Homo sapiens: one gene and its partner. The protein of the gene in region 2 interacts with the protein of the main gene of each other region in a pairwise test. Each region holds a gene or a part of one and is shown on either strand. Other genes may lie near its edges.

The links. The genes of interacting proteins can lie anywhere in the genome.
Region 1: the proteins of USP2 (region 2) and STAT5B interact in binary tests that used the Homo sapiens proteins (3 or more experiments, as listed by UniProt).

Annotation. Positions count from the first base shown.
Region 1 is NC_000017.11:42,266,286-42,273,790, forward strand, and holds part of STAT5B (signal transducer and activator of transcription 5B), read right to left. Parts: exon of another isoform or gene 2,001-7,505; intron 1-2,000. UniProt on the Homo sapiens protein: Carries out a dual function: signal transduction and activation of transcription. Mediates cellular responses to the cytokine KITLG/SCF and other growth factors. Binds to the GAS element and activates PRL-induced transcription.
Region 2 is NC_000011.10:119,357,593-119,365,097, forward strand, and holds part of USP2 (ubiquitin carboxyl-terminal hydrolase 2), read right to left. Parts: intron 6,617-7,505; exon of another isoform or gene 6,404-6,616; coding exon of another isoform or gene 6,257-6,403; intron 6,127-6,256; exon of another isoform or gene 6,112-6,126; coding exon of another isoform or gene 6,097-6,111; intron 2,643-6,096; coding exon 2,592-2,642; intron 2,069-2,591; coding exon 1,945-2,068; intron 1,751-1,944; coding exon 1,639-1,750; intron 1,543-1,638; coding exon 1,432-1,542; intron 1,246-1,431; coding exon 1,181-1,245; intron 661-1,180; coding exon 557-660; intron 470-556; coding exon 389-469; intron 244-388; coding exon 165-243; intron 1-164. UniProt on the Homo sapiens protein: Hydrolase that deubiquitinates polyubiquitinated target proteins such as MDM2, MDM4 and CCND1. Isoform 1 and isoform 4 possess both ubiquitin-specific peptidase and isopeptidase activities.

The DNA of each region.
Region 1 (7,505 bases), on a different chromosome or scaffold from region 2:
TGGAGGCTGAGGTGGGAGGATCACTTGAGCTCAGGACTTTGAGACCAGCCCGGGCAACATAGTGAGACCCCACTCTTTAAAAAATAATAATAATAAATTAAAATAATAAATAAAATTCAAAACCATAAATTTTGAGAATATCACATTTTTGGACAAAATTTTAAATGTGTGTCTAAAGTAATACGTTTTCTTACTTAAGGACCCACTCCTGGCACACTTCACTCATCCTGGGCAACAGAGCAAGACACTGTCTCAAAAAATAAAAAAAAAAAAAAAAAAATCATTCCCTTAAAATTATATGCTTTTTGGCCCGGTGCAGTGACTCATTCCTGTAATCCCAATACTGTGGAAGGTTGAGGTGGGAGGTGTGGAGGTGGAGGTGGGAGGGATCACCTGGAGACATAGCAAGACCCCTGTCTCTATTTTTTTTTAACTATGTGCATTTTTCTGGTATTGCAAAGTCAAGGGATCTTGCCTCATCACCAACTCAGCATGTGAATTGTAGCCATGCCACTCAGGAAGCCAAATATTTTCTATTTTGTTTTGATACCTTCAACATGAGGAGAAAGGCCAATCTCTTCATACATTACAATGAAATTAGTATTTTTACTTGATATTTAAACTCACTGCAAGATAAACTCATTTGTAAAACATGACTACACTCAGAGTTTCCATATATGTAGTCAGGCACCACATAATGACGTTTCAGTCAATGACAGACCACATATATCACTGTGGTCCCATAAGATAATAAAACGTAGCTGAAAAATTCCTATCCTCTAGTGACGCTGTAGCCATCATAATGTTGTAATGCAATGCATGACTCACATGTTTGTGGCAATGCTGGTGTAAACAAACCCACTGCACTGCCAGTCATGTGAAAGTCTAGCACATACAATTGCGTGCAGTACATACTTGATAATGATAATAAATGCCTATGTTACTGGTTTATGTATTTACCATACTTTTTATCGTTATTTTAGAGTGTACTCCTTCTACTTAAAAAAAAAAGTTAACTGTAAAACAGCCTCAGGCAGGTCCTTCAGGAGGCATTGTTATCACAAGAGATGACAGCTCCATATGTGTTACTGCCCCTGAAGACCTTTCAGTGGAACAAGATGTGGAGGTGCAAGACAGTGATACTGATGACCCTGACCCTGTGTAGGCCTAGACTAATGTGTGTGTTTATGCCTTCACTTTTAAGAAAAAGTTTTTAAAGTTTTGAAAAATTAAAAAGTTTTTAAAGTTTTGAAAAATTAAAAATTATTTAAAAAGAGAAAAAGTAAAAGAATAAAAACATAAAGAAAATATTGTTGCACAGCTGTACATGTTTATGTGTTAAGCTAAGTGTTACTACAAAAGAGTTTAAAAGTGTAAAAAAGTAAACAGTTGGCCGGGCACGGCGGCTCACACCTATAATCCGAGCACTTTGGGAGGTCAAAGTGGGTGGATCACCTGAGGTCAGAAGTTTGAGACCAGCCTGGCCAACATGGTGAAACCCCGTCTCTACTAAAAATACAAAAATTAGCCAGGCGTGGTGGCACACGCCTGTAATCCCAGCTATTCGGGAGGCTGAGGAAGGAGAATTGCTTGAACCGGGAGGTAGAGGTTGCAGTGATCCGAGATCACGCCACTGCACTCCAGCCTGGGCCACAAGAGCAAGACTCCATCTCAAAAAAAAAAAAAAAAAGTAAAAAGTTTACAAAGTAAAAGTATTACAGTAGGCTAAGGTTATTATTGAAGAAAGAAACAATTTTCAAAATACATTTAATGTAGCCTAACCAGACAGTATTTTTAAAATCTACAGTAATGTACAGTAATGTCCTAGGCCTTCACATTCACTCACCATTCACCCACTGAGTTGCCCAGAGCAACTTCCAGTCCTGCAAGCTCCATTCCTGTTAAGTACCCTATATAGATGTACCATTTTTTATCCTTTATGCCATGTTTTTACTGTAACTTTTCTATATTTAGATATGTTTAGATACACAAATACTTACCCTTGTGTTACAATTGTCTACAGTACTCAATACAGTATACATGTTCCACAGGTTTGTAGTCTAGGAGCAATAGGCTTTATCATACAGCCTAGGTGTGCAGTAGGGCTCACCATCTACGTTTGTGTAAGTACCCTCTATGATGGTACCACAATGACAAAATCGCCTAATGCATTTCTTAGAACTTTGTCACCATGTATCATTAAGTGACAAACGACTATAGTTACGTAACAATAACCAAAGAAAAATACAAAAAGAGGGACTATTTACATTGTATCCTTACATATTAAACCTTCCATGCCTTCGGAATAAGAATCTAGTATCCAGTTCTCACTATACATAGCTTTCCCTCACTTTCTATCAGAAATGAGATAGGAGTCCCACCTTCCTGGCATCAGAAACAGATCACCAATCCTGCAAACAAATTCACAGGGTGAACTGTTTCATTTTTAAAGAGCTGTAGATTTCTGTAGATCTCTAATTTGCTACTTTTCCTAAACCTAAAAGATGACCAAAAGATTTTTAGAAACATTAAACAAAAAAACAGAATTAGCATTATTTCTAACAGAACATTTTACCTATTTAAATATACTGTAGAATGAATGCTATATTACAAAGCTGATGAATTCCAATTTTTAGTACTTTAAGAGATCAAGTGTTCAAGTTTCTTTTTATATAGGCTACAATGACATGTATGAATGTAACTTAACATTTAGCCCAGGTTAGATTTTTTAAAATCCCACTCCTTCAAAAACAGTGACTTGCCACCAGCTATAGGCTCTGAATTTATTTAATTTATTTATTTTTTTGAGATGGAGTCTCGCTCCGTCTCCCAGGCTGGAGCACAGTAGTGCGATCTCGGCTCACTGTAACCTCTGCCTCCTGGGTTCAAGTGATTCTTCTGCCTCAGCCTCCTGAGTAGCTGGGATTACAGGCGTGCACCACCACACCTGGCTAATTTTTGTATTTTTAGTAGAGACAGGGTTTCACCATGTTGGCCAGGCTGGTCTCCAACTCCTGACCTCACGTGATCCGCTTGCCTCGGCCTCCCAAATTGTTAGGATTACAGGCGTGAGCCACTGGGCCCGACCTAGGCTCTGAATTTTAGACAACAAAAAATAGTTTCTCACAAACTTTTTAACTTACTCTCACCTAAAGGCTGGAAAACCCCAGTGAAGGCTTTTAAAACTCATCAGACATAGAAAAAAAGAAGCAGCTTTAATTGTAGGATCTCACTGACACAAACATAAGGAAATTCTGAGTTATAGATACCTCACATTAAGCTTTTTCCACTGACATTGTAACTTCTGTCAACATTCAAAGAAAATTCAACCCTGGTCAAAGGTGACAGTTGACAATCCTGGAAGCTAACATCCTCTGTTTATTTGAACAAGTTTATACTCTGCACAGGGAATTGAAGTTCTTCTTGTCTGTGACTTGATCTCCCAAAGTTAAAGCACTACGCTTTAGGGTTGTGAATTCTGTTTCCAAGACTTAACTTCACAATCCACTCCCAAGGAAAAGTGCTGAGAGAAAGTAAGCATCATAAATGAAAAAAAAAAAAAAATCTGAGACTATTTTCTAATGGCCTTTGCAGAGCTCTAGACATACAATAGTTCAGTTGCCTTAAAAATTCGCCCAAATAGGCTGGGCATGGTGGCTTATGCCTGTAATCCCAGCACTTCGGAAGGCCAAGGCAGGAGGATCACCTGAGGTCAGGAGTTCGAGACCAGCCTGGCCAACATGTCAAAACCCCGTCTCTACTAAAAATACAAAAATTAGCTGGGCATGGTGGCACATGCCTGTAGTCCTAGCTACTCCGGAGGCTGGGCAGGAGAATCTCTTGAACCCAGGAGACGGAGGTTGCAGTGAGCCAAGATCGCGCCACTGCATTCCAGCCTGGGTGACAGAGCGAGGCTCTGTCTCAAGAAATAATAATAATAAATTAGCCCAAATAAGTAAAATTCTTAAATCTGTCTCAGAAATCATGACTAATGCTCTAAAAAGCTTTAATGCAACAAGAATAGGACAGAAATCCCCGCAAAATAAAGTTGTAAATAAAATGAGTGGGATTGTTGAGTTCTCAGTACAGACGTGCATGTCAACACAAACCCACTACATTGGCACAAATGATCCCTTTGTTTGTAAACAGAGGCCAAGGAGACAGCTTATAGCTCTTCTTCTATGATGTACACGGTAATGCTAGGGGAAGAAGAATGAAAGACAACTTATAATAAAAATTAAGACTTTCTCTTCTTTAATATAATTTCCACCAGAAGTATATACTTTAATTGGAAAAATATTTATCACCATCTTCATCAACATTTAAAAAAATCCTAAACATATAAAAATATTTTCTATTCAAAAACCAACGAGACTCCATTTGGGAACACAAAGAAATACAAGCCTCAAAGAAACAAAATGTCTTATAACAAAGTGGCAGTGGCCAGCTCGCTTTTGCTGTACACTAGTTAGGGATGCAGTCTCTGGAATCAGCCCCGCCAAGAACAGTAATGTGACCTTGGACAAATTACTTAACTTCTCTGTGGCCATTTCTTCATCTTCCATCTGGGAATAATACCCACTCCTCTGAGAATCACGAGTTAACACAAGGCCAGAGCTGAAAACAATGTCTGCCCAGCACACTGTCAGTGAACGGTAAGCATTAGGTAATGTTTTTATTATCTTCACACTTGAAGGCGTTGGAACATTTTCTCAAACTCTGGGTTTTGAACATAATTTGAAGGACTTGTTAATTGTCTGCTCACCTCTCGAAAGGTGGCATCATAATGATTAGATACATAATCAGAATATCTTCCCAGGTGAGCCATGGTAAGCAGAGCTCTAGCCCAGAATGATGAATAGTTATTTTTAATACAAATCATGGATGTGGCTGTTACTGGCAACTTCGGCCTGATTTCCCATATGCAAAGAAATCCCCTACCAGGGGAAAACAAGCAATGTTAGAAACCCGTTGGGTTTGTCCTGTTATCATTACAGGGTAAAGCCAAATTCACATTTAGTAGCCTGATGGGCATTAAAAATATTAGTCACCAAATTAATCCCAACAAATAACAATAATTGATTGGCTCATTGATGTATTTCCCCTTGTCTTCCCCAACCTTTCTCTAACTAGTCAGAAAGGAAAGTTTTCATATTTTCTGAGAATCTCATTACTGCTCTCAAACCATGCTCTATATCTTAGTATAATTTAAAAAATGAGTCAGCACAAGCACCTCAGAAAACTAGCATAGAATATGAAGCTACTTCTCTTCATATTAGAAAAGTACAAAAATTTTTAAAAGGTTATTCAGGGTACCAAAGGTAATAGAAGGATACATGAAGAGTGAATGTTGCAGTAGATTTTGCAAGCTAGCTTCCAAAAGTAGGTAGAAAAAGATAAATGTTCTTCATCAATCAATCAATACAGGTATTCATCATCTCAGTGGTGTCATCCATGTGAAAATGGACATAGTTATTAAGAATAAACCTAAAGAAGAAACCATCTTGTATGTGACAAATTATAACTTCTCCTTTCTTGAATATTGGGGCAGCAGGGGAATAGGAAGTCAAGATACTCCAAGTATTAACTTCATTTGCAAATTGAATTGTACATAATTGTGCACCATGCTAATGCAATACTGCTTTTAGTAATGGGATCCAAATGAAAATTTAGAAGAGGTAAACTCCCCCTAAACTGCAAACACATCTGAATGTCAATTCAATTAGGAGTCTATTTAGTTATTACACTTCTTAGCATAAAGCGAGTTAAAGGCCAGGAAAAGAACACTTGCTTTAATCACTGAAACAATCTACACATATTTCTCAAGGCTCCACTTAACTCATCCTGCAACATTTATATTAAAAGTGACCTATCACTTAAGTGATCCAGGAGAGTAAAGGAAGAGTTTTAAGGCTGAAGGTGATTCCTCCTGAGCTCTAATACCATACCCTGAATTTCACCTTGTTCTTAACTCTTTTCCATGACACTGTGTATGGCTTTTAAGCGAGTCCAGAAAAACGGCTATCATTACTACTTAATATAAACCATGGGGTTCTGTATCATGTAAACCCAGAGCAACTCCTCTTTGAAGCACCGACATTCAAGGCTCTACATAACATGTTTCAACTCTATCTTAGTGCTATACATTTTCCAAGTACCTGCGAGGAAACAGATAGCAGCACCTCCATTTTTCTGTAAATTGTGCTTTTGTTGCTGTTCTAAGACTCCTTCCAAGGCTGTTAAACTTTGAAGAGAGTTGGGAAAAGACAAGAACATCTTGCCTTCCCGATTGGGTATTCAGGCTTCACTCAGTAAAGCTGTCATGAAGTAGCGCAAAGGGTCAGAGACAAACCACATGGCATCTGATGTTTGTCTGTATAAGTTTAAAATAAAAATGTGACACTACAAGAAGGTTAACATGTGGACCTAATTTTGAAAATACAAACAGGAAGCACCCCCACCCCAATATTACCATTTAAAAAAAAAGGAAACCAAACCTCAAAGATACCTTCCAAGGAAGTGATGGGTGTGACCCAAACTAACAAAAGTAATAAAACGTCACTTCAACTCTGAAACCATCAAAAGTGAGGGTCTCATTCAACCAACTAAAAATCTAACACCTGTAAATTGCTCTTCTCTTTTGATTAGTAAAAACAGCATAGATTTAGATGTGCAAAATCTTCTCCAAACTGACATAGGCTTTTCAGTAGCAGAGGATCATCATTAATAAAACACCCAATGTCAAGATTTTACTTCAAATAAGGCCACTATAATTAACAGTGAATACAATTTTAAAAAGTATTTATCACTCTGATGCTTAGAACTTAAATTTAAGTACAAAAACTGTCTGATCAATGGAAACTAGATTGTTAAGTTTGACTTTCTTATTCCCAGAAATAAGCATAAAACTGTTGTGTTTCCAACACTGCAGGAGAAAAAAAAAAACTTCTGATTTTAGAAGAGTTCTATTCACAAAGCTCAGAATTAAAAACATTTTCTTCCTTTAAATACCACACATTTGAGGACAGCGATAGTGCAGAGCTAACTTTGAAGCATTATTTTTATTAAGTTGCACAGTTAAAGTATTTTGATACTTTGATATTTTATAGTATCAAAATAAAAGGATATTCTTCTCAAGAGTCCAGTAACCTGGAATTGCCAGATAGCTTTTTAAACGAATAAGTTTCAAATTATCAGAAAAATCATACAAACTAGGGTTATTTTGCTTCCTTTTGTAGGAATAATGCAGTAATCTGCACTCTTAACAGAAAGGGAAAAAATGTGTCACAGATAGAATGTCCAGAAATCTGTGAATAACTTTATGAGATACAGACATTTTTGTAGGGCACGAAAATAGTTAGGCTTCCTTCGATTCCACCTGTAACCTGCATCTAATCTTGAGCATGTTATTTACCTATCTATAACGTCTTCCTTTTACAATAAGACTACCTGTGTCACCTACCTACATAACAACAAGCCAAATAAACCACAACAAATGGATTCAT
Region 2 (7,505 bases):
GGCATTGACGTGAGTCAAGGATAGTCAAACCAATGCAGAAGGGCAGACAACAAAAGGAAAGCCTACAAGGTCCGTTTCTTCCGACTGTTCCCCTCACCTATGGGCCCCTTGTCATCAGTCACCCTTGAAAGTCATGTCCCAGCCCTGATGGATCTTAAGGATACGGAGCACCAAGATCTTTGGGAACCTCTGGATGGAGAACTTCTTTATACACCGTTTTCTGCCTCGGCAGCGACAGCATGTCTGAGAGACAAGACAAACAGAAAGAACTTGTGGGGAAGTCAGTGGGCCCCAATCCAGTCACTCCTCAACTGGATCTGCTGGTATCAGCCTCTTCCCAGTAGGTCCCACGGAAATTTGTTCTTGCTATTACCGAAGGGTGACTTACTGGCTTTTCATCTCCATCAAGCACATCCTCTTTGGTGAAGAGCCTCATGCAGTCCATTAATGTCACCTCAGGATAACCTCGCTGGGAAGGGGAAAAAAGCAAAGGTCAGAGGTCAACATGAAAGGACAGGAGAGGGAGTTCAACAAGGCGGGCAACTGGGGTGCATACCTTAGCAATGGGCAGTGAGAGGTCCCAGAAGGGGTCGAAGACCGTAGAACAGTAACCACAATCTGTACACGTCAGCGAGCTCTTTAGCTGCCCAACAAAGAGATCTGGGGAAGAGAAGGCCATGAGATGCTGAAATACAGGAAGTAGAGCATGGTCTTCTGCACAGCAGCTTTTATTTTTTTTTTTGAGATGGAGTTTTGCTCTGTCCCCCAGGCTGAAGTGCAGTGGTGCAATCTCAGCTCACAACAACCTCTGCCTCCTGGGTTCAGTGATTCTCCTGCCTCAGCCTCCCAAGTAGCTGGGATTACAGGTGCCCACCACCATGCCTGGCTAATTTTTGCATTTTTAGTAGAGATGGGGTTTTGCCATGTTGGCCAGGCTGGTCTTGAACTCCTGACCTCAGGTGATCTACCCGCCTTGGCCTCCCAAAGTGTTGGGTTTACAGGCATGAGCCACCATGCCCGGCCTGCACAGCATCTTCTTTCTTGCTGTTCCTGCTTTGCTTTGTTGAACACTAGGCAGAAACAGGCTTCCCCGGGAGAGTGATTCTTAGGGCTTTTCATGCTCCACTCAGGCAAGAGCAGGCAACAGTGAAAACAGGCATCTTCCCTTTCATGCGCTTACCCCCGATCCTACTGTCTTCCCGTTCTAGATATTTTCTCCACATCTGTCGGCCTTTCTCGTCATCACTGGGAACCAGAGAGAGACAACAATTGGGTCAAAGCTCAAAACTTAAGTTTAAGGGTCTGTCAATTTTGATCCTTCATCTTCAAAAGTAAATCAGATTATTCCCAAATCATTAACCCCAAAGTGGTGGGTAAAAATCTCGAGTTCACAAAAGTTTTGCTTTCCCACAGCATTCTCCTCTTACTTACGGAAGATGATCGAGGTTCTCAGGGTTGGACTTAGGTCTCAGTGTCACTCGGTTCACCTCGTTATGGAGCCCATCCAGAAGAAAGCGAAGGAACTCCTGAGCATCCTGCTGACTGAACCCAAAGGAAGGAGGGTGAGCAACACCTCTTGTCCTAAGAACCTGCTCCTACTGCCACCCACCTGAGAGGACATGTCTGCAAGGCCCTTACTTATAGCCAACAAAGCGCGGTGCGTATCTCTGGATCTGGGTCTTGAACTCAGATGGGCTCACCACATCATTGGGGGATGAAGTCCATATGGTCTGAATTAGTTTTGCAAACTCTATTGGAAGGAGAGAGTGTACAGGACAGCTGAGATATTTTCTATAAGAAACTCTGAAACTAGAATCCCAACAAAAAGCAAGCAGAGAAAGACAGACAGGATAGGAGTGTCTAAGACACAACACCTAGAACAGCCCCAGTGGAGTGGAGGAGCATCCGGGGGTAGGCAGGGGCACATGACAGAGGGCCTCTCACCTTCCACGAGGGCTGTGTGTGCATTGCTGCCGTGGTGCAGGTCCCGCATGTAGAGCCTCTGGAGGCAGTAATCTCTCAACTCCCGAGTGTTGCTCAGGCACTGCAGAATTGAGTTCATGAAGCACTGCAAGAGATGACCAGGCAATCAGTGGGGAGACGAGAGTCCCACCTTCACCTGTGTTACTTACTACCAGAGGCTCTCTGGTTCATCTACCTAGAATCCTTTCATAGGAGGCTATCCTTTCATAGCCTCAAGTTCCTCTTTTCATAAGTGAAAGGGGTGAAGTGAGGCAAACCCCCACTCCAGGCATAGGTGACCTAATTGGTTATTTACTATAGAGGTGCACAAAAGGGCGTGATGTGATGGACAGAAGTGTGTGGGAAGTGATGGGCATCCTTTAGGGGAATGATCCAGGAGAGGAGCAGGCTGATGGGTAAAAGGGCAACTTCCTTTTAGCAGTGCTTCCTGCTGGGGGTGGGTAAAGCACAGCCCAGCAATTCTGTGAAACACCAGCCAGGAAGGGCAAGTGCCAACTGGCTGAACGGGTAGGGAGTCAGCCACAACCAGAAGGGGACTCTGGTTATATGGCTCCAGTCAGCATAGTAGGGGGTGGGCCTGGGGAAGAAGCAGGCCAGGAAAAACTCACCGTGTTCCCAAGGTTTCGAAGACCAGCCAGACCCTGGGCACTCTTAGAATTCTGTAAGCAAAGAACATATGGCAATAAGGTGGAAGCAAAGATGCTAGGCCTGTGCTGGGCTCTCTCGTGCAATTTCTAACCAGCTGGAGCCACAGGCAGCAGGCCACACATAATATTCTTTCTTCAACTTTACCCATCTATGTACTTTGTAGGAAAGAGGATTGAGGAATGCCTGTGATTTTCTTTTCTTTTCTTTTTTTTTTTTTTGAGACGGAATCTCACGCTGTCACCCAGGCTGGAGTGCAGTGGTACGATCTTAGCTCACTGCAACCTCCACCTCGTGGGTTCAAGCGATTTTCCTGCCTCAGCCTCCTGAGTAGCTGGGACTACAGGTGTGTGCCACGATGCCCGGCTAATTTTTTGTATTTTTAGTAGAGACAGGGTTTCGTCATGTTGGCCAGGCTGGTCTTGAACTCCTGACCTCAGGTGATCCACCTGCCTCAGCTTCCCAAAGTGCTGGGATTACAGGCGTGAGCCACCGCGTCCTGCCTAAATGCCTGTTATTTTCAACAACCAACAAAAATATTCTTCAGGGCTTTATTGAGTGTGTATTGACTATGTATCTCCCTGCCCCCCATCTTTATGTTATTCTCTATTCTCTGCTACAGTGGAGACTAGGAATTCATATATTTGGTACATATTGACTCCTTACTATAAGAAATTTTGAGTCCCAAATCCAGGTGCTATCTCAAATGACCTATATTTGTACTCCTAGAAGTCCAATATATAAAGTAACTCTCATAAGAGACACTTTGAGGAGGTTTTGAAAAGTTAAACAACAAAACACCTTGAGTTTCGATCTTCAGTTGGGAAAAACTCAAGTAAGCCTGCCATTCTGAATTGCCAGAGACAGGTGGAATTCCTTCCAGCTGAGCTCAGCTCCTAAGGGCTGATTAAAGACTCGGAGAATCCTCCCTGCCTGGCTCAGGTTTCAACATCCTGACTGGCCACTGTCTGGGAATCCTGGAGATGGCAGATTGGGCCCGCAGAGGCAAGGGCCTGGCTGAAATTGCCACTCTTGCTGTTGGCCCTATAGCGGAGGCGGGTGAGGGGGTTGGAGAGAGAACAGGTGCTGGATCGAGGACTCTGAGCTTATTTGTCAAGGTCTCTTGGCTAATCCTGGGCATATCTCCAAGGAGTCAGAAAACCTTCAGGCTCAAAGGGTTAAATAAACAGTTTGCAGATGAGTCTGCCACCCCCTCTCTCAGGGAGGGGACTGGGAGCAGGCAACTCTGGAGCAACACTGGGGCATGCGTGGGGCCAGCTCAGCCCTGATCAGAACAGGAGCCTGAAATAACTCAGCTAAAATTACTCATGCCGTGTGCTGACAGCCTATGAGGCTGTCAGCAGCTCAAAGCCCATGAGGTTGTCAGCTGGGGGGGAGGGGTGTGGGTGGGGGAGGAGCAGGCTGAAGGAGGGCTTTTCTCAAGAACTGCCTTACCGATCCCACAAGTAAGAGGATCCCTTCTTGGCCAGCTGTCAGGGCTAGCACTAACAGGTAGGGAAGAAAAATATACCCAGAAAAGAGACCCAGTTTAAACCTGCAGCTAGAGAGAAAGGCCAATTGGCAGCAGGTGGGATATAAGCATCCTTAGAGAACTTGGCTAGGGCTGGCAGTATATGGCCCCACACAACATCTGAATCTGACTTACTGACAGTCAGCAAGAGGGCCGCAACAGAGATAATTCCCTGGGACAAAGACCTTCTCAGCATTTTCCAGAATTGGTGAAACGCTGCAAAAGTCTCCATGTTGCGCACTCGGAACTAAATGTTAAAGCTTGCCCACAACAGAATACCCACCCTTACGTCTATTTTTGGCAGTGCTTTATTAGTTCTTAGCCCCTGTGCCTCAGATGACATCTGTCTAAACAGGCTGTAGGGGAAAGCATTCTACCACTGGTGACCGTGTCAATGTTCACCAAAGCAGGCCCTCAGCTGAGACAACAGTCACTCAGTGCTAATGGGGGTAGGGAAATGGGAAAACGGAGTCATCTGTCTACAGAAGCACTCCTGTGGTGTTTTAAGATGTTGACACTTAATTCTGACCCAGCAGTGAGGGGCAAGAAGGACACTTCGTCACCCACGATTACTATTCTTGAGGATCTAACCCCTCTATTGGCCTGGGGGGTGGGGAGATGGGAGAAGCTCCTTTAAGGCATCCTTAGGACCCTTGGTTGTTATGTTTTAGGGTGGGGGTTGATGCCTTTGTCTAAAATTTCCTCAGCTCAAAACCACATGCCAGTTTCTAGGTGCTCTGTGTAGAAGGCGGGTGGATAACAGGAGTGGGGGCGACAGAGGAGGGGGAGCAGGGCTGCTCCATGCCCAGCCAGATATTCTTCTGCCAAGAATAGGAAATCAGGAGCTCCAGGGAAAGTCAGCACTTTTCATTACAGAGGGGAACAAAATGTCCCCAGAGTGACCTTTCTTACAGGACAAACAATCCTACCTCAGGGTCGACAGGGAGAAAGGGGCCAGAACTGCAGAAGGTGGGAGACCCTGCACAGCCAACCTCTTTCGGTGAAAGCCAGAGAAGGAAATGACCCCAAGTGTTATGCTGGGACACATGTGCAAAGAGTTGAGAAAGTTTGGACCCAGTCTTCCTTCCATTCAGCCATCAGCAAACCTAGTTTTGACTCAGTATCAAGCACTGTTGCAGGGAGCAGATGGCACCTTCACCATCAGCAAATAGACAGCTTTCACCTTCTAGAGGAGAGGAGCGGGGGCTCAGGAGAGCCCTGCCTGGGTTAATGCAGAGGTAGCATCTGGGCACCCTTCGGTAGGAGAGGCCGAGGTTTGTGTCTTCACACTTGAGACCCCAATCAAGGGCTTTCCCGCCTACCTCACCTGTGTGGTGAGGGTCGCCCCAAGTCCTGGCTGCAGCTAGGAAGCCTGGTGTGGCCCTGGCACGGGGCAGGGCACGCACTGCCAGCACGGGAGCTGGTGCCTGTTACATAAGACCTGTCAAAGCTCGGGCCCCTTCTCCCTTCCCCAGGCGGGCAGCGCCCAGCCTCGGCCCCGGCATTCCCCTGGGGGCTGCTTCCGCGGAGGGACCCGCTGCCCGCTGCATAAATGGAGAGGACGGAAAGAAGGGGAAGTTGCCCTCTGTCACCTGTCTGCACCTCGTCTGCCCTTCACAGGGTCAAAGGACCCCCGTCACCAACCCTTGGGAAAGAGCCCTTGGTGGACAGTGAAGGGGAGGCGGCCCCTTTCTGCCCAGCCTTCCTCGCCGGGGTTTGGCCTCGGAGGAGTACCCCGGCACGGTCCAGCGTGCTGCCCTCGCACACCGATCGAGACCCAGTCAAGGTTATGCTTTCCTGCACCTGTCCTGATAGGTGCCAGGAATTGAGAGGCCAAGAGCCACCACCTGGTGCCGGGGCCACCGAGAGGGAGGGGGCAAGGGGGACTTCCTCGGACCTCCACCCGGGGAGGGGACCACGAGTAAGCGTGCGATCACCTGAGGAGGGGGCATTCCTTGCCAGGAGACCCTGGGAAAGGAGGGGTGGGGGCTGGGAAGAATCCGTCCCCTCACCTAGGGGCGCGTGGCGGGCAGAGGCCAGGGAGAAGGCGGGACCCCAGGCCCTCGGCGCGGGGGTCCCGGAAAAGGGCCCGCGTACCTTGGCTTTGTTGAGCAGGAGCCCCACGAAGGTGGAGAGCAGCAGGGACGGGGAGAGAGGGGAGCGCGGCCGCAGCTCCTTGGCGAGGGCGGGAAAGGGGGCGGCGGGGGGGTCCTCGGGCAGGGTCACGGTGTACGAGGTGCGCATGCTGGGGGGCGGGCGGCGGGCTTTGGCCCTCGCTTAACGTTGGCAGCGGGGGCGCGGGGGGAGTCCCCGCGCGGTGCCACAGTCCGGACGCCGAGGCCGGCGAGACCGCTACAGGACAGCGTCCGCGGCGCCCGAACGCGCGCTCCTCCGCCTCAACCTCCCCGGCGTGCGCCGCCAACAGCCCGGGTCCCGGCTCTCGCGCTCCGGCCGACTGGCGGCCCCGCCGGCGCCTCGGGCCCCGCGACGTCAGCGCTGGGGCGGGGCCAGGCCCTAAGCCCCGCCCCACCTCGCCTCTACCCCGCCCCCGGCGCCGGCACGCGGACCCGAACGAGGCGACAAGGTCGGTCCTCCCCCGCCGGGCCTTCCCCGCGCTCCCCGGCGCCCCCAGCCCGCTGACCCCCGGCCAGGCAGGCCCGCGGGGGAGGCAGGACCGGAGCCCTGAGGCCCTGGCCGGCCTCGGGGTTGAGGCTCAGCTCGGGATAAGTGATCTTTGGGGCCCGCAGAGGACGTCTCCCCAAGACCCAGTGGCAACCGGGTGAGCTTCCCCCAAGGCACCATTACACTTCCTAACTCTTGAGGGGGCTGCAAACCATTTTGAGAACGTGATGAAAGCTCTTCTCTCTTCAGGGCGAAATACGTATATGCACAAACTTTTGTCTAGAGTTCCGGGGGTACTCAGGCCTTCGTGAAGACCCAAACTCATGCAGTCTGTGGAGGTCAATGTGCCCAGGTTAAGAAGATGGACCTTCACGGCCTAGGGGCTGAGCTGCCCTCCTCAAAACAGTCCTGTTTGGCTTCTTTCAAGAGAGGCAGTGCTCATGTTTTATAAGGTCCAATAGGTCACCTTCTCATTTGGCTCCTGAAAAGAACCTTTTCTGGTCTCTTCTAACCAATTACCCAGCTCCGGCTCTCCCATTCTCAAATTTGACTTGTTTTGGGGAGCTGGGGAGAAAGCAATACAATAGTGGGGAAATAGGCGCTCAGCTGGCATGGGGCGAGTGTTCTACTCTGGCGTCAAGCACAGCCATGCTGGAAGATCAGGGGTCTTTAGATTTCGTTTCTGATGCCCCACCCCTCCACCTAACAGGGAAGCTCACGAATC